Linked DNA regions of Homo sapiens: regions 1, 3 and 4 are each linked to region 2. The links come from fine-mapping of genetic effects on plasma protein levels. Region 2 holds a variant in brackets. A gene starts in each other region. All regions are shown on their forward strands.

Region 1 (5,124 bases), not on the chromosome of region 2:
TCGCACAACCCCAGGGGCCGACAGGAGAACCTGCAGAACCACGGACCCCAGACCTGCGAGCCACCAAGATCTGCGCCGGCCTCAAGCACACCCCAAATGCACTCCAGCCGAGGCCTGGCCAGGCCCCTGGACCACTGCCTCGGCTCCTCACTCAGGCCCTGCCTCCCTGGCGGCCCTCTCGAGCCCCACCCCACAGCCAGCTCCTGCTTAAACCTAGCAATGCCCCCCAGGCCTGGAATTCTATTATCAGCTTGAACTAGGTCCCGCTGAGAGTGACAGGAAACCCAAATAATGGAAATTGCAACGAGGCAGAGTGTGTTGAATTCTCCCCGGGAGGATGCAGCCTGGAGCTGAGCTACACAGGACGCTGGGGACCAGGCCCCTTCTGTGCACCCCGGCCATCCCCGGGGAGCCCCTCATCAGGCGGCTTAGGGTGGCTTGCCAGCCAGAGGCATCAGATGGAGGAAAAAATCAAAAAAGAAGAGAAGCAAAGCTAGCTTCCGGCAAGAGGCTGGGACTGCTACAAGACATTCTCCTTTTGCCCCATTGGTCAAAATGTGGTCACGTGGCCCTGCTTTGCTGCAAGGAATGCTGGGAAATGTAGTCTTTCTTCTAGCAGCCATCTTATCATGGAAAGAGGGGAGAACAGATATTAGGGGACAACTAACCAGCTCTGCCACAGCGGAAAATCCAGATTCCGCCACGGCCTACAGGCTCCTCCTGGTCGACCCTCTCGGGAGCCCCGGTGCCTCCCTTCCTCCATGCCTGGTCCCTCTGCCTGAAGCCTTCCCGCCCTCTCTCCTGGCTCCATGCATCCTGTGGGCCTCCCACAACGCTGGTGCCAGCAAAGCCCGATCTCCTCTCCCGAGGCCGCCTGCATTCCCCCTGTGCGTGCATCGTAACCTGTGTCCCTGACTCACAGGGATCCTTACCCTCCCCAAGGTCTGTGCTCCCCAGGGAGGAGCCAAACCTCTGGGTGCCCTGAGCCCCAGCCCTGCAGAGCAGGCACCCCACGCGGTGGTTGCAGGCACCGGGCAGTCGCTCCATCCTGGTTTTCAGCTTTTGGTGCACAGAAGCATGAAGAAGAGGGGTCACTGGCACGGAGTCCTCCTTGAGAGTGTGTTCCAGTCGGCCAGGCAGGGGCAGCCGGGGATCCGTACCAGTGGTCCCTGCCCACCTGGGTTAGGAAAGGCTGGCTGGCCTGGGGAGGCTGTGGACGGCGTCTGCGGTGTCATCTGAGTGCCACGGCCATCGCTTCGAGACGGCGTCTGCTTGCTGCAGCCAGCCAAAGGTCTTAAGGAAGGCCGGGGCCACTGTCGGCAGGTGTGTGGCTCCAGATTGAAATTGTGACAATACCTCCAACCATGCCCTTCCGTCTTCCCACCGCGCAATCCAGTGCACCACCTCCCACCATGCAATCCAGCGCACCACCTCCCAGCAAAACCTCCAGGATCCGCCTCAAACCCAGCCCCATCCCACAGCCACCACCCTGGTCCGGGCCACCAATAGCTCTTGCTCAGACACAGGCAGTCACCTCTCCAGGGAGCACCCAGTGTCCATTCTGCCCTCGTTCTGGTCTATCCTTCACCCACAAATGGAGAGTATATTTTAGCATTAGATCAGTTCATGTCACTCTCTTGCTTAAAACCCCCGCCTGGCTTCCACTGCCTGGCATGAGAATCACCGCCACCTGCCCTACGGGACTGGCCCTGCCACCCCTGCCACCTGCCCCATGCCCGCTCCCCTAGCTCATGGTCCCCCAGAGTCACTGGCCTCCACCATCCTCTCAGCGAAACCCCACCAGCCACCACTGCGTGCCGCCCACCCACCCCGCCAGCCTCTCCATCACGTCTTCCTGCCTTCCCTTCTTTTGGGAAACTCTTTTTTTCTTGTTTGTTCATTTTATCTTCTGTGTCCCCAACTCGAATGGAGGCCACGAGGAACATTGTCTGTCTCATTCACTTCTGTGTCCCCAGAACCTAGAACCATGCCTGGCACACAGAACGTGCTTAATAGGAACTGAGACAGAGACATACAGGGAAGGAAAGAGGGAGAGAGACAGAGAAAGAGAGAGAAAATAAGAGAAGGGGAAGGAGAGATGGGGGAGAGGGAGGGAGAACCGCACACTGAATCCAGGGGTTCCTCTCCCACCCTTCATGTGCCTATGGTAACAAGGGAGTCCCCCTCTTCTGACCCCTTGTTGTCATCAAGCAAGAACGTCCGAGCCCCAGGCACCCTCTGAAATTCCCAAGAAGGAAGCATCCCAAGAAGGAAGCATCCCAAGAAGGAAGGCCCACAGGACGCTGGTCTGGAGCCATCCGGTTCCCGGTCTGCTCACCACGCTCAAGGAGCCCCTTAACAGGACCAGGAGGAGAACAGGCACCCAGCCTGGGGTTCCCCCCGGACAAGGCCATGCTGTGACCCAGGCTTGGTCCTGGCCCTGACCATGGGAAGCCCACCCCACAGGCCCTCACCCAGGCAGGCCTGAGGCCCATGCACCACTAAAGGCCTGGAGAGGGGGTCCCACCCCAGCCTCACCTGGGTCCCCTGGGGTCAGGGTGAGCTGGGACAGAGGGACCACCTGTTGCTATGGGAGAGGGAGAGGGCACGACTTTCCCAGTGGAATGGGCTCCTGCTGTGCTCTGAGCCCTGGGTCACTGTCCCCACTCTGGGGAGGGAGGGGAGGAGCCTGGAGCACCAAGGGCGCGGCTGGCAATAAAGGCAGATGCTCAAGTTGATGCCACCCCACGCACGTGAGGCTGGGACCAGGGGTGGCACTGACACGGCTGGGGAGCCCACTCCCGAGGTTCGACCCGGGGATGTGCACAGCCACATTCCAAAGGCGCACGGGATGAGATCAGCCCGGGTGACCCTGGGACTTTGTCCTCCTCGGCAGGAGCCAGCCCTGTGCACCCTGTGTGCCTGTCCATCTGGAAGGCCCAGCATGAGAGGCCCGGCCGTCCTCCTCACTGTGGCTCTGGCCACGCTCCTGGCTCCCGGGGCCGGAGCACCGGTACAAAGTCAGGGCTCCCAGAACAAGCTGCTCCTGGTGTCCTTCGACGGCTTCCGCTGGAACTACGACCAGGACGTGGACACCCCCAACCTGGACGCCATGGCCCGAGACGGGGTGAAGGCACGCTACATGACCCCCGCCTTTGTCACCATGACCAGCCCCTGCCACTTCACCCTGGTCACCGGTGAGTACTGCCCTGTGACGGGGCCTGGGGGTGGGAGGGCCTGAGAAACCAGATGGCACAGAGCCGTGTCGTGCAGGATAAAGGGGAGAGGTCCTTGCTCCAGGCACAGGACAGAGCCAAGGGGACCATTAGGAATCCTCACCGTTGGTAGCAACAGATCCGGGACAAAGAAAAATGACCAGGGGGGTCCTTAAACCCGTGGCCACAGCCAGGGCAGCAACCCCAGAAGGCTTCAGGAGGAGGGGAGTGTGGCGGGCTCCCCGCTGGCTCCCATGGCTCCCCTCCCCTGCCCGCCCCTCCAGCTGGCTGTGTCAGCCTCTCCCTCTCCCTTCCATCCTTTCCATTTTCCACCCAACACCTCCCTGACAGATCTGCCCAGGCTGTAGACAATACAGACATAGGTTTTTAAAAAGCCAAATATGGGGCCAGGCTCAGTGGCCCACGCCTGTAATCCCAGCACTTTGAGAGGCTGAGGCGGGCGGATCACTGGAGGTCAGGAGTTCGAGACCTGCCTGGCCAACATGGCGAAACCCCATCTCTACTAAAAATACAAACATTAGCCAGGCATGATGGTGCATGCTTGTAATCCCAGCTACTTGGGAGGCTGAGACAGGAGAATTGCATGAACCCAGGAGGTGGAAGTTGCAGTGAGCTGAGATCGCACCACTGCACTCCAGCCTGGGTGACAAAGCAAGACTGCATATAATATATATATACATATATATATACATATATATATGTATATATATATATATATACACACACATATATATATATATGAGGCCAAGGCAGGAGGATTGCTGGAGTCCAGGAGGTAGAGGCTGCAGTGAGCTGCAATCACACCACTGCACTCCAGCCTGGGTGACAGAGCAAGACCCTGTGTCAAAAAAACAAACAATAATAAAATAATAAAAAGCCAAGTACCACAAAAAAGGTGTTAGAGAATTGAAAAGCAATTGGCCCTCCCTAGGGGCTCAGCCACCTCCCAAACCTGCGTCATCCTCCAAAGACCCTGCGTGGGTGTCCCAGGGCGCCTGCAACAAAGATCTGCAGACTGGCTTAAACCCACAGAAACGGATCCGCATGCTTCTGGAGGCCAGAAGGCCAAACCCAGGGCATTGCAGGGCTGCACCCACCCGGAAGGTTCCAGCAGAGGCTCCCTCCTCACCTCTTCTGGCTCCTGGGGCCTCGGCAATCCTTGGCATTCCTGGGCTGGCGGCAGCATCACTCCGACCTCTCCCCACGTCTCCCCAGGGCCTTTCCCCTGTGTGTGTGTGTCTGTATTCAAACTTTCCTCTTCTCACTAGTACACCAGTCGCTGAATTTCGGGTCCACACTTCTCTGGTATACATCCCCTTACCCTAGCTAATCACATCTGCAAAGACCCTATTTCTAAATAAGGCCACGTTCTAAGGTTCCAAGTGAGCATGAATGTGGTGGGACACCATCCACCCCAACACAGGCAGCTCATCCCCACACCAGCCTTTCTGCCCCTTCTAACCGCAAACGGAGGTGTGCGGGTCTCCCGTCTGCGCAGCGCCTCTTTTGCTCTCTGTATCGCAGATGAGGACGGGAGGGACCTTCTCCACATCATCTCTCCTTTTGCACCTTTTGGACTTAGTACCATGTGCACGTGTTTCCTGTACAAAAATAAATTCAAAAAATCTCCTGGAGCTCCACGTAGTTCACTGAAATTCCTGCCTGGGATCTCGTCTGATGGCTGGGCCATCATTTATTTAATGAGTTCCTTCCTGACGGCCGTGGAGGTCACCCGCAATCTTTTGCTAAAGCAAACAAGGCTGCCACCAGGATCCCTGCACACGCATTCGTGCCTGTGTGCCCGTCCAGCTGTGGGACAAACTGAAAGTGGAAGTGCGATTGCTAAAACAGGTCAAAGAACACGTGTCTATTTGTCTCAGACATGACC
Region 2 (5,130 bases):
ATGGCGCTTCCTTGTGCTTTTGCTGTGCCATAGGTTACTATGCAGCTAGCACATGTACCTCTTCCAGAAAAATGAGGTCATCCTGGGAGTGACCCAGAGATGCTCTCTAGGGATGTACCTCTTGATGTTCTTGTTAACTTTCCACTCTTCAGCTGGATTCCTCTTCCTGTCCCCTTTTCACCAGTCTCTACTCTTGAGAGAAGCTGAGAAGAGAAGGGCTCTTCTCATTTGTTATTTTCTCCTGCTTTTAGTATCATCTCACCCGTGGCAGAAGAAAGAGGTTCTTCCCAATTTAACACAAAATAAACTAGTTACTGTTTACAGATAATGCCCGCTAATGTTTACTGAAACTGAAACCCTATGATACATTCCATTCCCTTAAGTGTGCCACGCTGCAGGACTGACAAATGAAATCCATCCTACGAAAAACAGCCCAGGAACAAGCGAGGCCAAGGCCTGCTTTCCTCTCCGGCCCTTACAGTAGCGTGTGGCTCAGGCCACATCTTTTCCCTCTAGTTCTTTTGGCACAAGTTGTAACCTAATGCGACAAAGGTCCCTCATGAGATGGCTTAAAACTAGCAGTGTCGCTAGGCTCTTTAGGTGTTAGAACAGCCAACTCTACAAAAGTATTGGAGGGCACAGAAGGGTGATAGTCTTGGTTTTTATATTTGTCCTTCACTATATAAACATTGAAAAGGTATTAATCCTCATTAAGAAAGGATTATCGGCCAGGTCCTGTGGCTCACACATGTAATCCCAGCACTTTGGGAGGTCAAGGTGGGTGGATCACCTGAGATCAGGAGTTCGAGACCAGCCTGGCCAACATGGTGAAACCCTGTCTCTACTAAAAATACAAAAATTAGCCGGGCGTAGTATTGTGCACCTGTAGTCCCAGCTGCCTGGGAGGCTGAGACAGGAGAATCACTTGAACCTGGGAGGCGGAGGTTGCAGTGAGCTGAGATCACATCACTGCACTCCAGCCTGGGCAACAGAGCAAGACTCCGTCTCAAAAAAAAAAAAAAAAAAAAAGGACTATCATCCTTAGCAAACTAACACACGACCAGGAACAGAAAACCAAATACCAAGTATAGCATGTTCTCACAAGTGGGTGCTAAGTTAAAAGAACTTATGAACACAAAACAACACACACTGGGGTCTACTTGAGTGGGGAAGGTGGGAGGAACAGAAAAGATAAAACCTTCACATGTACCACTGAACCTAAAATAAAAGTTAAAAAGGACTAAGTCACAAGTGATTTGGAATGTGAGGTTATCCCTCACCCCCATGCTTTACTCTGTACTATTTTTCCTCCCTCAGTTTCTTTTTTTTTTTTTTTTCTGTATACTATGCTTTCTATTATACTTTGATTGGCATGGGCCAATCTGTTATTTTTAAGTTCAACTTTTTTTTAACTTTTAAGTTCAGGGGTACATGCGCAGGAAGTGCTGGTTTGTTACATACATAAAGGTGTGTCATGGGGGTTTGTTACACAGATTATTTCATCACCCTAAGTATCCATTAGTTATTTTTCCTGATCTCTCCCTCCTCCCACCTTCCGCCCTCTCATAGGCCCCAGTGTGTGTTGTTTCCCTCTATGTGTCCACGTGTTCTCATTTAGCTCCCACTTACAAGTGAGAATATGGAGTGTTTGGTTTTCTGTTCCTGCAATAGTTTATGAAGGATAATGGCCTCCAGCTCCATCCATGTCCCTGCAAAGGGCATGATCTTGTTCTTTCTTTATGGCTGAACAATTCTTTTTTTAAAAAAGGATGTTTTTAGGAGGAATTGTGTACAGAGACTGTTCTAACAGATAACCACAGAGGGACCTTTCCAGCCATTGGAAAGACATTCAAGAGGAAGAGGAAATAGGTTGTACAGCAGGTCTGACTACAGGCAATAAGTTGGGAAAGAAGAAAGGTTTAGATGCAAAGGGAGCGAGGAAGTAAACTGTGGAAGGAGACATGAGTAAGCAGAATGTCTGCTATTTCACATATTTCTGGTGCAGTCATATATTTACTGTATCAGATTTCCAGAGGGTGTGGCTGTTAGTGTGTCTCTCTACTCCCAGGAGCCCCATGTCTATCAGGATCTACCACCGCTCCACTGGATGTGCCACTTTGTCCATCAAAATGCTCACCATGGATGTGATTCAGCATGAGAGAGGTGGGCAGAGTGGGGAAATGCAGTGAAATCTTCAATCTGAGCCAAGGCTATAGACGTGAAGTGCCCCGGAGAGTCGGGCTCCCAAAGAACTCCTTCCAGCAGCAATGACGA[CT/C]TGGTTCTGTAAGGGACACAAGACAGAATTCATGGCTCATTCATAACATCTATTGAGTTCCTATGGTAGTCCAGGCATCATGCTATGCTCTAGAAATATAAAGATGAATAAGACACTGGCCAGATCCCCTGGCTTGAACTCAAATGCCACTTTCCCTTTGTTTACAGACCGCTTTCTCACATCTATAAGTTCTGAAAACCGCAGCTAAGGATGCTCACCCCAATCCCTATTCTGGCACATAAATCATAAAGGAGAAGTAGGGCAGTGCATGCTTAGTTCTGGTACAATGTGGAAAACATATCTTGAATAGTAAGGACTTCCCCTAGAAGCTGGCTTTGTCAATGTGTTTAGCGTACCTCCCACCTACCCTGCTGCTTAAAACATTTTAGGACCCATCTTTCAGAATTGCCTTCAAAACCTGCTGCAAGTTTTTAAAACATTTTCTTCTTTTTTGAAACAGAGTCTTGCCCTGTCACCCAGGCTGGAGTGCAGTGATGTGATCTCAGCTCACTGCAACTTCTGCTTCCTAGTTTCAAGTGATTCTCATGTCTCAGCCTCCCGAGTAGCGGAGATTACAGGCATGTGCCACCACATCTGGCTAATTTTTGTATTTTTAGTAGAGACGAGCTCTCACCATGTTGGCCAGGCTGGTCTCGAACTCCCGACCTCAAGTGATCCACCCGCCTCGGCTTCCCAAAGTGCTGAAATTACAGATGTGAGCCACCATGCCTGGTCTTTAAATATTTTCAGTGGTGGCAAATCTTCATACTCCGAGGTCGGATTTGATTTGTGGAAACTGACAAAAGTTATTCTGAACCAAAGCTGGCACATGAGGTACGGGTGATCAAACTGGCTGACAGTATTTTGGTCAGAGCAGGATATGACAGTTTCTTATTTAATTTTGAAAACTACTGATGAAATCTAGAAATAATAATAATAGCTAAAATTTGTGGAGGTTGTATCATGGGTCAGACACTATGCTTAGCCCTGTGCTTATCTTATCCCTTAATACCCAGTGTCAATTAATAGGGAAAATCTACACTTAAGAAAACAGCATCAAATGGTACTTTATTCTCCCTCTCTTTCCCAATTTATGGAATTACTCATTTACTAAATTTGCCTGGCCTTCGGCTTCACTCTGTTTTGTCAGAGTCTAGTCATCTTTCCAGATGCAGCTCCGGGCCCATGATCTCTGCAGGCCCTTCCCTGACTCCACCAGCAGAGACTTCTGCTGCAGTTGCTGTCTGACCTCGTTTGGCTCTTGGTCATCATACACCAAACTGGATGGTCTTGTGGGCCTGCTGTATTTTCCCACCTAGACTACAAGCACCTGGGGCTGGGACCATGTCTCAGGTTTCTTTGTCTATCTCACAGGTGCTTGATACAACACTGCTCACTATACACTAAGTTACTGCTCTGCTGAGGCTCCTGAGCTGATGGAAGGCAGCCCCATGAGAAGTTTCTGAAATACAGAGACAGTGAGAGCACTACTTACTTAAGTAGACGCCGGATCCTAATTCTAGTTTGTTACGACTAATTTCATTACTGAATGCTCTTATGCCACAGAAAGGAAGGAATCTTCAGAACATAACTTGTACCCAAATCTCAGAAAAAGGCCACTCTGATCATCCTCTGATTGTCAATGCCCATTTTTGAAACATAACATCTGATTTATCTTTACACCCAGAGCGTTCAATGCCCCCAAGCTCAGGTATGTGCTGGAAAAGTGAAGTAATTTTAACACTAACCCAGGTAAACAATAATTAGGAAGGTACATTTGCAGTGTTTTACAAAAAGGAATAAAATATAAGTTACTTTTAGATTATATATACCACTACTCTCAACTGATGTAAGCTATAGTTGATATATGTATAGTTTTATATAATACATGGGTTCTTGACAATGCCTAATTTTTGAAACAAATAAAATTTTAGATATAAGCCAAGCTTGTCATATAAAGGATCCCTGTGATCAGACCTTCCGAGAATCTTCCCATAAAGTTAATAACCATATTTTTGTTATGTGGTTAATCCTACATTTTTAGACCTGCCTGTAAATGGGTCACTTAAATTATTGGCCACTAGAGGGCAGTTTCACCACAATTTTTCCTAATCCTCTTCCTCCTCCCACCTTCCACCCTGGTCCACAGGAACCTGGTCCACAGCACTTAACAAGTCTTACAGACCTGGTTATATATATAAATCTATGAAGGCTTCTGCAGCCCTTCAACCCACTGTAAAGACTTATTCTTCAGACTACTCATTAGCATTTAATCCTATACTAATTTGCATTTTATTTGACTTTCCATGTATATGAATCTTATTTTCAAGAACAGGGACTCTGCCCTCTCTGTTTTTATTTCTTATAGCCTATACAGTGGATGAATGCAATCAGTGGTTTACAGGTATATTTTAAGGTTAAACTTTTTTTTTTTTTTTTTGAGACAGAGTCTTGCTCCATCACCCAGGCTGGAGTACAGTGGCACCATCTAGGCTCACGGCAACCTCCACCTCCCAGGTTCAAGCGATTCTCCTGCCTCAGTCTCCCGAATAGCTGAGACTATAGGCATGCACCACCACGCCGGGCTATTTTTTGTATTTTTAGTAGAGCCGGGGTTTCACCATGTTGACCAGGCTGGTCTTGAACTCCTGACCTCAGGCGATCCACCAACCTCGGCTTCTCAAAGTGCTGGGATTACAGGTGTGACCCACTGCACCCAGCCAAGGTTAAACTTTTTAATCTGCCATATCGAAATTTAAACTGTGTACACTTTTAGATCTAGCAATCCTACTTTTAAGATTCTCACCTGTGGGGATACTTGCTCAATTATAAAAAGCTACACATACGTACAAGAA
Region 3 (5,144 bases), not on the chromosome of region 2:
CTTTTGTGATTGGCAATACTTCATGCGTGCTGTCACATGTTATTGCTGGAAAAATCAAGTCCTGTCCATATAAATCCACTGGGAGAGGAAAAACTGGAAGATTGAGATTATTTTCTCCTGGACTTGGCCCTAGAATATTTCACCTTTGATGGCTTTAACATGTATCTTTTCACTGTAAGAAACCATAATCAAGGCTGGGCACGGTGGTTCATGCCTGTAATCCCAGCACTTTGGGAGGCTGAGGCAGGCGGATCACAAGGACAAGAGATTGAGACCATTCTTGCCAACATGGCAACACCTCTGTCTCTACTAAAAATACAAAAATTAGCTGGGCGTGGTGGCAGGTGCCTGTAGTCCCAGCTACTGGGGAGGCTGAGGCAGGAGAATCGCTTGAACCCAGAAGGTGGAGGTTGCAGCGAGCCGAGATTGCACCACTGCACTCCAACCTGGCGACAGAGCGAGACTCTGTCTCAAAAAAAGAAAAAAAATGAAACCATAATCATGGTATAACCATTTGGAAGTGTTAGTGAATCACTGGCCTGAGGTTGGTCTTAGGGAACACCAGTAAAGTCATCTTCCCCTACATTTGGCAAACAGCCTAATGCTTGACAAAGCACTGGACCACCCAGCCTCTCTGAAGTCCTCATTACAATTGCTCAGGACAAAACCTATTAATTATCCCAGGTACACTTTTCCCCTTTATATTCCACAATTGTCATGGGCAAGCACTGTCAACTCTCCCTGTAACACACACCCTCTATTGAACCCCTTGTCTCTGTCTCTAGTCTAACCACTGGAACCCAAGCCCAAACCTTGTTGCCTGGAGCCCCGCTCTCCCCGGACCTGTTCCCACTCTGCCCCAATCACACAGGCCTTCGTCCCAATCCCTGAACAGTGCGTCAGGGCCTCTGCATGGCCCTTTCCATGCCTGGACTGTCCTCTCCCAGATCAGCTCAGCAATGGTTCCTGCCACAATTCTGCTTACACATCACCTCCTCAGAGACACCGTCCCTCCCCATCCTCTCTAACACACCCTCTGCTCACCCACACCAGCGGGCCCTAACTTCTCTCTACTTCAAACTGTGCTTCTGTTACTGTTTTGCTTCTATTATTATTATTATTATTATTTGAGATAGAGTTTTGCTCTTGTTGCCCCGACTGGAGTGCAATGGCATGATCTTGGCTCACTGCAACCTCCACATCCCAAGTTCAAGCGACTCTCCTGCCTCAGCCTCCCGAGTAGCTGGGATTACAGGCGTGCGCCACCATGCCCGGCTAATTTTGTATTTTTCATAGAGATGGGGTTTCACCATGTTGGCCAGGCTGGTCTCGAACTCCTGACCTCAGATGATAGCTCCCACCTTGGCCTCCCAAAGTGCTGGGATTACAGGCATGAGCCACCGTGCCCAGCTGTTTTTCTTCTATTATTATTGTTCTTGCAGGAGCTGGTAAAGTGGCTGATGTGGCCACAGCTCCATAAATCCATGTGGAACGAAGGGTGGACATCGCCTGAGTCCAGGAGACAGGACAGGGTCACTCATCTCTGTCCCTGGTGATGGAAACTCAGGCTCAGGAAAGAGCCTTGACCTGCCCTGGGTCACAGAGAGAATATGAGGGTCAGGGCTCAAGCCCAAGTGCTGTCTTCAGGCCCTTAGGCTGCCTCTCACACCCAGACTAGGAAGCTGGAGCAGAAAGTTTGCTAGAACAATCCTGAGAAGAGGCCTGCACAGTTCAAGGGGCAGCTTGGAGGAGGAGAGGAAGGGAGGGCGGGCTCTGGCCAGCAGGCTCTTGGACCTCAGGCCAGGCTCTGGCAGCTGCGTCTGGTATCAGGACTGCAGGTCCCGACAGGGGGCGGTGGCTCACGCTTGTATTCCCAGCACAGTCGCCAAGCCTAATGTCCCTTCCAACGGTGGAAAATTTTGGTAAAAATCAATGACAGGCTGGGCGTGGTGGTGCATGCCTGTGATTCCAGCTACTCAGGAGGCTGAGGCACGAGAATCTCTCGAACCCGGGAGGTCTAGGCTGCAGTGAGTGGAGATGGTGCCACTGTACTCCATCTGGACGACCGAGCAAGACTCTAACAACAACAACAAAAAAAACGGACTGCAGGTGCAGTGCCCAGCACAGAGCCTGCTACATAGGAATTCTCATTTTCTTCTCTTCCCTACTCTTTCCTTCCTTTATAATCTCTTCCTTTCCCTCTGAAGTACCGACCCCAGAGCTTGAGATCTCATCCCAGCCTCCCTCTTATTGCCATCCTCCCCTGCTGCCTTCCCCACACCCCTACCTCTCACAGGGTGGGGGTAGGGCCTCCTGGGACCCCAGTCCCAGCCCCAGCAGCAGTAGCAGGCACAGCTCCCAGGTCCTCCCTGGCATGGTGGCTGTGACTGTGACTGAATGAGCAAGCCCAGGCACCTTCGGCTTGCTGGGCACAGCCTGGCTCACCTGCCTGTCCAAGTCGGCCAAAGTCCAGCCTTTGAGGCGTGGCCACCTGAGGGGACGTGTGCTTGGTCTGTGTGTGGCCCGCTTGCCCCTCCTGCTCTCAGGGCACAGTGGCCACCTCCCTTGCTTCTACTTTGCCTCTTCTATTTCACAGTCTCAGCTGGTGCCAATGGCTCAGGCCCTTCCCTCAGAGCATGGTGGTGGGGGTGGGGAGTGGGCACCCAAAGGCCAGGGACACAGTCGAGGCCACACACCTGTAACCTGGATGCCAGGTTCCTTGGGTGGCCCCAAGACCACCAACCTCAGAGAGTTACCATTTCCCTTAACATTTCAAATGGAATGGCTCAAGATCCTGTCCCTGGTGTGGTGTGAAATTCAGGGCCTCTCACTGTTATCTGCAAGAGATACAGCGGAAGCACAGGACAGTAGAACCATTCTGTCTGGGGAGGACTAAGGGAGACCCACAATAGTGTGTCATTTGTAATGAGTCTTTTTTTTTTTTTTTTTGAGACTGAGTCTCACTCTGTCGCTAGGCTGGAGTGCAGTGGCGTGATCTCAGCTCACTGCCACCTCCGCCTCCCGGGTTCAAGCAATTCTCCTGCCTCAGCATCCTGAATAGCTGGGACTACAGGTGCCCGCCACCACGCCCAGCTAATTTTTGTATTTTTAGTAGAGACGGGGTTTCACTGTGTTGGCCAGGATGGTCTCAATCTCTTGACCTCATGATCTGCTCGCCTTGGCCTCCCAAAGTGCTGGGATTACAGGCGTGAGCCACTGCGCCAGTCCTAATGAGTCTTGATGACCGCATAGGAGTTTGCCAAGGGAAATGGGCTGGAGACCACTACAATGTATGCAGAGCATGTGAAGAGAAGAGCAAACCCCTCAGCCTAGCTGCAGAGAACTTGGTGTTCATGCAGGGAAGGGTTTTGAGATAGACTGGAGGAACATGTTGGCACCAGTCTGGAAATGGTCTTTGCCAAGCCAAGGAATGTAATTCCTTGTAATTCCCCAAAGTGGAACCAGCAGAGAAGTTTGTGAGCTTAAGAAGCAGATTCAGGCTGGGTGCAGTGGCTCATGCCTGTAATCCCACCACTTTGGGAGGCCGAGGCGGGTGGATCACCTGAGGTCAGGAGTTCAAGACCAGCCTGGCCAACATGGTGAAACCCCGTCTCTACAAAAATACAAAAATTAGCTGGGCATGATGGCGGGTACCTGTAATCCCAGCTCCTCAGGAGGCTGAGGTGGGAGAATCGCTTGAACTCGGGAGACAGAGGTTGTAGTGAGCCGAGATCATGCCACTGCACTCCAGCCTGGGCGACAGAGTAAGTCTCTGTCTCAAAAAAAAAAAAAAAAAAAAAAAAGCAGATTCGGTTACTTTAGGAGGCTCATCCCCTCAACATATGGAAGGTGAGCTGAAGGGACAGGGGACAGGGGGTGGGCAAGGCACATGGAGTTTAATGATAGGCATGACCTCTCCTGAAGGACTTAGGTTTGCAGTTAAGGATGTCAGTTGTGGCACCTGAGCAGTGTTTACTGCTATTAAAAAGAAAAACCTTAGACAAATTAAATTTAACCATTTATTCAAGCAAAGAAATGACTCATGAATCAGGCACCACTCTGAACTAGTAAAGGTTCAGATAGCTCCACCCAGTAATGTGGGCAGCTGGCATTGTTTTTTTTGTTTGCTTTGTTTTTTGAGACAGGGTCTCGCTCTGTTGCCCAGGCTGGCATGCAGTGGCTCCATCACAGCTCACTGCAGCCTTGATCTCTCAGGTTTAAGGGATTCTCCCACCTCAGCCTCCTGAGCAGCTGGGACCACAGGCACATGCCACCACGCCCAACTAATTTTTAAATTAAAAATAATTTTTTTTTTTTTAGAGATTGGGTCTCCCTATGTTGTCCAGGCTGGTGTGGAACTCCTGAGCTCAAGCAATCCTCCTGCCTCATCCTCCCAATGTATTGGGATTACAGGTGTGAGCCACCATGCCTGGTCAACAATTTTTAAGTGTACAATTCAATTTCCTTTTATTACATTCACAATGCTGTGCAACCACCCTTGCATTCTTTGGATAAATCTCACTTGGTCATGATGTCTAATCCTTTTAATAAACTGTTGGTTTTGGCTTGCGAGTATTTTTTTGAGGAATTTTGCATCAATATGTATAGAGCATATTTGACTGTAATTTTCTTTCCTTGTTTTGTTTTGTTTTTTTTTTTTTTTGGACACATAGTCTTGCTCCATCACCCAGCAGGCTGGAATACAGTGGCATGAACACAGCTCACCACAACCTCGACTTCCTGGGGCTCAAGTGGTCATCTGGCCTCAACCTTCTGAGTAGCCAGGACTACAGGTGCATGCCACCACGCCTGGGTAATTTTTAAATTTTTTTGTAGAGACTACATCTGACTGTGTCGCCCAGGCTGGTCTTGAACTCCTGGCCTCAAGTGATCCTCCCGCCTTGGCCTCCCAAAGTGTTTCTCCCCAAGTGTGAGCCACCATGCCCAGCCCTCTTGTGATGTCTTTATCTGGTTTTAATATCAGGGTAATGTTAGCCTCATAGCATGAGTTAGGAAATATGCCCCTCTTCTATTTGTGGAAGTGTTTGAGAAGGATTGTTAATTCTTTAAATGTTTGGTAGAATTTACCAATGAAGCCATCTGGTCCTGGACCGTATTAGGCAGAAACAATACATATATGGGGG
Region 4 (5,130 bases), not on the chromosome of region 2:
AGGGGAGCAGGAGGTGTGGCCTGCCAATCCAAGCCCCAGCCCAGGGCCCTTGCCACAGTGCTAGTGGGCCACCCTTGCCCATCATGCAGCATGGCATCCATCTGCTCAGCACCCTACACAACACCGGAGGTAGGGGAGCCCACCACAGAACCCCTCACCAAGAAGGTCCTCACCATGGAGAAACTGAGGCACTGGAGGCGGGGCCTCTGCAGTCACGCTGGGTCACGTGCTCCAGTCAGCCAAGCTGCAGCGGCCACCAAGGGTGCCCAGGGTCTGGCCTGTTGGTCACAGTGTTGACCTCATGGCCTGAAATGGGTCTTCCCTGCCCAGACAGGTTCCAGCCCACCATCATCTATCTGCCTCAGCCCTGGTGGGTAGGGAGTGGCTGGGAGACCCTGCCCCTCACACCCTGGGCTTTGCGGTATTCAACGAGCCCCCAACACACATTCCAGGGCCTCTGCTCCAGATTAGGCCACAGCCTGTCTAGGCACACAAGGGGCACCCACACCCTGGAGGCAAAGAGACATGCCTATGTGCCCGCAGGCACACATGATCACGCGCACAGACACACGTGCAGATGCATACCAAGTTACACACACGCACACAAGCCCGAGGCGGGGACCCCCAGGACACGGAGGCAGGCAGGCAGAGGTGGGGCCCAGGATGTCTTGCCCCTGTCTGTGGGCCTGGCCTCCCCACTCAACAGACGAGCATGTGGGTGCGGGAGTGGTTATTGCGAAAGGGGCCCCAGCATGTGCCACCCGTGGAGACCACAGCAGGCATGCCGCGTGCATGCATGTGTGGCCGTGGGTGTGCAGGCGGGGGCGAGGACACAGATATGCACCCTCAGAGTCCGTGTGTGCACCCAGTGTTTGTGCATGTGCACACTGGGGCGGCGTTGGCTTGCATGTGCACCAGAGGTGTGCAAGTGTGCAGTCCGTGTAGACAAGTGCACGTGCAAGGAAACGTGTGTGCAGCCTGCGGCACCATGGACATCAGCAGGGCAGCCTGGGTGGGCACCTGGGGAGCACCCTCCAGGCGGGGCATGCCCAACTCACATGGAGCCCACCCTCCCTTGCCCGCACCGCGGGACCTCACAGCCGGTGGGGCGGGGGAGTCCCACGAGGGCTGCTAGGGAGGGGTTGCTGATTGCCCCACCGCCCCTGATTCCCCCAGCCAAGCCTCTCAATGTCCCTCGGGCTGCAGATGGCGGGCGTTGCTGCCTCCTCTCACCGCCCGCCCTGGAGGCAGCGCTGGGACAACCCTGTCCCCCACGCCCTCTACTGCCGCCAACGCCCCCATTCATCCCACTGTGGACTGACCTCGGAGAAACGGGAGGTTCTGAGCCCAGACCGTGAGGCTGGGGTGGAGGCGGCCCGACACCCCCACCCACCCTCGGTACCCACGTTTCTGCAAAAACCCGCTCGTTAACCCCTTGGTGGCCGGGGCGCTCCGAGGCCGGGCCCCGCCCTTCCAGCCCACGGCCCCCGCCCTCGACTTGGCCCAGCATCGGGGACCCTCGGACCGCCACCCTCGGCCCTGCCGAAGCCGTCAACTTTCCCGGGAAGCGGCAACTTTTCCTGCCGCCTCCGGCTCCGCCCTCCCGGGGCCGGGGCGCCAGCGGCCCCAGCCTGGCGCGGCACTGCGGTGGCTTTCCCTGCCGCCCGGCTACGCTTCCCTCGCCTCGGCAGCCCGGGACGGGCCCTGCGGCTCCGGGGAGGGGGCGAGCCGCCCCCCTCCGCGCCCCGCCGCCGGCCGGGCTCGGGTGCAGCGCGGACACTCACCTCCAGCGGACGCCCTCTTCATCGTAGGGGTTGGGCGGGGCGCGTCGGGGACTGAAAGTCGTTTCGGGGCGGGCGCCCGTCTCCCCGCGGCCGGGTCCGCATCCAGGCGCCGCCGCTACGGCCCGGCCCCGGCCCGGCCGCGGGACGAGGCTCGGCGCGCTCCGCTCCGCCCGGCTCTGGCTGGGCTCGGGCCGCGGGTGCGCAGGGCGCGCAGGGCGCACAGGGCGAGGGCGGCGGCGGCGCGGGGGTTGGGGCGTGGGCGGCGCGGCGGGCCGGGGCGCGCAGGCCGGGCCGCAGGAGGCGCTCAGCCCGCCCGGTGCACCGGCGCCGCGCGGTCCCAGACAAAGGCGGCGCATTCCTGAAGAGGCGGCGGCCCCTGCAGGCGGCGGAGGGGATGGCGGCCCGGGCCGGAGCCGGCCGGGGACGCGGGCCCGAGGGTGTGGCGGCCTAGGCTGGCCCGGTCCCCAAGCGGGCAAGGGCTTTGTCCCGAGGCCTAGGAATGGCCTCTGCCTGACCCACTCCCTTCCTGGCCTCACGAAACCCATGAATCCCCCGCCCCCTGCACAGAAGCCCCTTGCTGCAGCACGATCGCCCCCATTTTTCAGTAAGAAACAGGCTCAGGGCTTAAGAGAGTTCTGGGGGCCCTCCTGGGCCTTTGTGGCCCTCTCTGCACCATCCTAGAGAAGGGACCTAGGCCTGATGTTACCCGTAACCCTGCAGGGGTCCCCCACCTCTTCCCTTCTGCGGAATGGGGGCTCCAAACCCAGAAGACGCTCTCCGAGGTCACCTGCTTAGTATCCCCCCACTCTACCAAGCCAGCCCCCCACGGGCGGTGTGAGGCATGGGGCCAGAGAATCCAGTGACGCCCCTGCACACACCACACAGGGGTGCAGGTGTCCCTTCTCAATCTTCTGCTCGGGGCACCTACCGGGCCTCACCGATGAGCTCCTAAGTGCATCCCGGGGTCTTCAGACAACTGCCAGGCTGCCCCTGCACCTGGAGAAGTGCTGGGAGTCAGCTCAGCCGGGCTGGGTCCTCCCCAGGCCCACCCTGCATGAGAGGACCATGCAGATGAGGGTCTTGCAGGCCCACCTGGTGTCAGTCTGTAGGACCCTGACTCAAGGACGGAGTGGGCCAGCCTGATGCCTTGATGGCCCCCCTCAGAGCCCAGGTCCACTGATATGAAGCAGAGAGACCTGGTGACTGGGCACCCCTGTGCCCTCTGCCTGCCCCTGGCCATGGAGGTGGCCCTGAGGGAGATGAGCAGGGCGCAGGGCCGGTGACCTGCCTGCCTTGTGCAGAGGAAGTGAGGACCTCCCAGAGCCCTGGTGCTCCCATCTGATCCCAGTGGCAGGCAGCTTCGCAGGGTGGAGCCATGCTGGGTGGGCCCTCTGCCTGGTGTGGAGGCTGCACTGCCCACATGCCTCTGGCTGCCGCTCTGTGGCCCTCATCACTTTGGCCTGCTTTATCCCTATCACCCTTGTCCCAGCCTAGGCTTATGAGGGCATTGTGGAGTGCATGCCATTCCCAGCCACACAGAAGGTGAGGTGGGGCCCAGACACCCCCAGCCACTCTGTCCCCTGGCCTCCTGAAGGGGTGGGCTGTGCACACACTGCCACCTCCCCAGAGGGTGCTGGCTGCCGAGTGCCACCAGCTCAGCCCCTGAGGTGGCTCAACAGGTCCTCCCAGAGCCACACCAAGACGTCATCACCCATTGCACAGATAGGGAACCTCAGGCGAAGCTCACAGAGCCAGTGGGAGGCTGAGGCCTGACCCCCAGACAAGCATTCTTCTCCAGGGTCCCTGCACACAGCAGCCCCCAGGCTAGGAACTGAGCTCTCTCCACAGGGATGTATCAGACCCTAGATGAGTCACGTGGCACTGACCATCAGTCTGAGGACAGCGCTGGGGTGGACCAGGCTCCAGTCTCGGGCTGCTCTGTGCTTGCAGAAAGGCCTTGAGAGGACACTTGCTTGCTTACTCCGCAGGCGTCTCTTCAATTACCAGTGACCCAGAGCAGCCCACTATAGCTGAAGATTGTGACCCCACACCCTATCTCATAGGTTTAAAGCCCCTCCCACCCCTCCTGCCGCAGCCGAAGTGACCATTCTGGGGCATGGGATGGGCATGGGGTGAAATGGGGAGCAGGGGTGGCCCTGGAGGCTTCTGGCACCAGCACCCTCTCCAGCCACCAACCTGGCTGTTCCCGGTTGCTCTGCGCTGGGACCTGGGCCTCCACCTCCCCACAGGTCTCTGCATGGGAGCAGGGCTGAGGCCTGCAGAGGGAGCGCTGGGGGATGGGCTGGTTTCCTGTGTCCGCCACCTCGGTCAGCACGTTGGCCAGCACCCTCCCCACTGGAAGCTGGGCCCACTCCTGGGTGCTAGCTGGGATGGTTAGGCGTCGGCCAGCGCTGATAGGGAGTTATGGGGGTGCAGAGGCAGAGTTGAGCAGGGCTAGGCAGCCGGTGGGTCTGCTACCAGCAAGGCACAGCCCACTTCTCAGGCTGCGCATGTGGGAGGGTTTGGTAAGCCACATTTTTCAGGGTGTAGCCGGGTGAGGGGTAGCATGGGGAGTGGTGTACTCTTTGGGCAGGCGACCACGGAGCCATCACCCCCCAGGGCCCAACGGGCAAGAAGGGGAGCAGCTGACGGCTGGTGAGGGGCTAGCAGGGAGGGCTTGACAAGGGCTGGAGCCCCTGGTCAAGGGGCACAACCAGTTCTATCGGGTCACCTTGTGGGAGGAGCCAGGGACCCTGTGGGCAGAGCCTGGCCGTCTGCTGCCCGGAGTCTACACCAGTCAGTTCCTAGGAAGCCCCATCAGGGGTGCTGGGAGGACAGGCCATCTGTGCCCAGCTGATGCAAGCTCCCAGGCTTTCTGGACACGTGGCCCTGGGGATCAGGAGTGAGCTGGAGACTGCAGACAGCTGTGCCCTCAGGGCCACACAGACCTGTCACACCCTGCCTGGACTGGGTCAGCAGGGCCACACGGGCATCTGCCCGAATCGTTCCCCACCTCACACCCACCATGTGGGGCACATTCTTTGCCAGCTTCCCCAGCCCACCACCCCTCTACAGTGAGGCCAGGGGCTGTCTCACCTCCCACCCACACCCACACCCAAAATGTGGGGCTCAGCCTCCACGACCAGCATGCCGGTCATGAGGGCCCTGCCCAGCTGTGTGACCTCAGCCCAGTCCCTTGGCCTCGCTGAGCTTGCACAGCATGTGGACGAGGCAGACGCTAATGCCTCAGGTCCTGGTCAGCTGGTCACCATCCCTCCTTTGTTCACCTCGCCTGTCCCCTGAGAGGATCATGCAGGGTTTTCACTCAAAACTCCAGGACTGCCCA

Alleles and levels. Positions count from the first base shown, and alleles are read on the strand shown. Strength reflects both the effect of a copy and how common the allele is.
In carriers of allele CT in region 2, the plasma level of the protein whose gene starts at base 2,748 in region 1 tends to be higher than with C alone (weak association).
For the plasma level of the protein whose gene starts at base 2,399 in region 3, allele C in region 2 goes with a lower level than allele CT (weak association).
With allele CT in place of C in region 2, the plasma level of the protein whose gene starts at base 2,032 in region 4 is higher (weak association).

What was found. PIP is the posterior inclusion probability: the model's chance that the variant is causal. Protein levels are from antibody-based Olink assays in UK Biobank. Linkage for the fine-mapping came from a reference panel and not from the study's own genotypes, which makes the PIPs less certain.
Region 1: it holds the start of ENPP7, and the variant in region 2 is fine-mapped to the plasma level of the ENPP7 protein (UK Biobank, PIP above 0.99).
Region 3: it holds the start of TREH, and the variant in region 2 is fine-mapped to the plasma level of the TREH protein (UK Biobank, PIP 0.96).
Region 4: RTN4R starts here. The variant in region 2 is fine-mapped to the plasma level of the RTN4R protein (UK Biobank, PIP 0.98).

Annotation. Positions count from the first base shown.
Region 1 is chr17:79,728,196-79,733,319 of GRCh38, forward strand. ENPP7 (ectonucleotide pyrophosphatase/phosphodiesterase 7) reads left to right here and starts at 2,748. Exons shown (of 6, transcript NM_178543.5): 1 at 2,748-3,197. The coding sequence starts at 2,945. RefSeq lists enhancers at 1-587, 386-505, 412-706, 588-1,547, 4,667-4,716 and 1 more.
Region 2 is chr6:24,426,838-24,431,967 of GRCh38, forward strand. It overlaps GPLD1 (glycosylphosphatidylinositol specific phospholipase D1), which reads right to left. Exons shown (of 25, transcript NM_001503.4): 25 at 1-2,281. The coding sequence ends at 2,195. Among named protein-coding and RNA genes, the nearest start is that of MRS2, 26 kb to the left of the region's middle. The variant CT/C (reference allele first, on the strand shown) is at 2,275.
Region 3 is chr11:118,677,252-118,682,395 of GRCh38, forward strand. TREH (trehalase) reads right to left here and starts at 2,399. Exons shown (of 15, transcript NM_007180.3): 1 at 2,288-2,399. The coding sequence starts at 2,376. RefSeq lists enhancers at 1,629-2,290, 2,291-2,950.
Region 4 is chr22:20,266,287-20,271,416 of GRCh38, forward strand. RTN4R (reticulon 4 receptor) reads right to left here and starts at 2,032. Exons shown (of 2, transcript NM_023004.6): 1 at 1,785-2,032. The coding sequence starts at 1,806. RefSeq lists an enhancer at 876-1,564 and silencers at 1,776-1,935, 2,026-2,185, 2,236-2,295.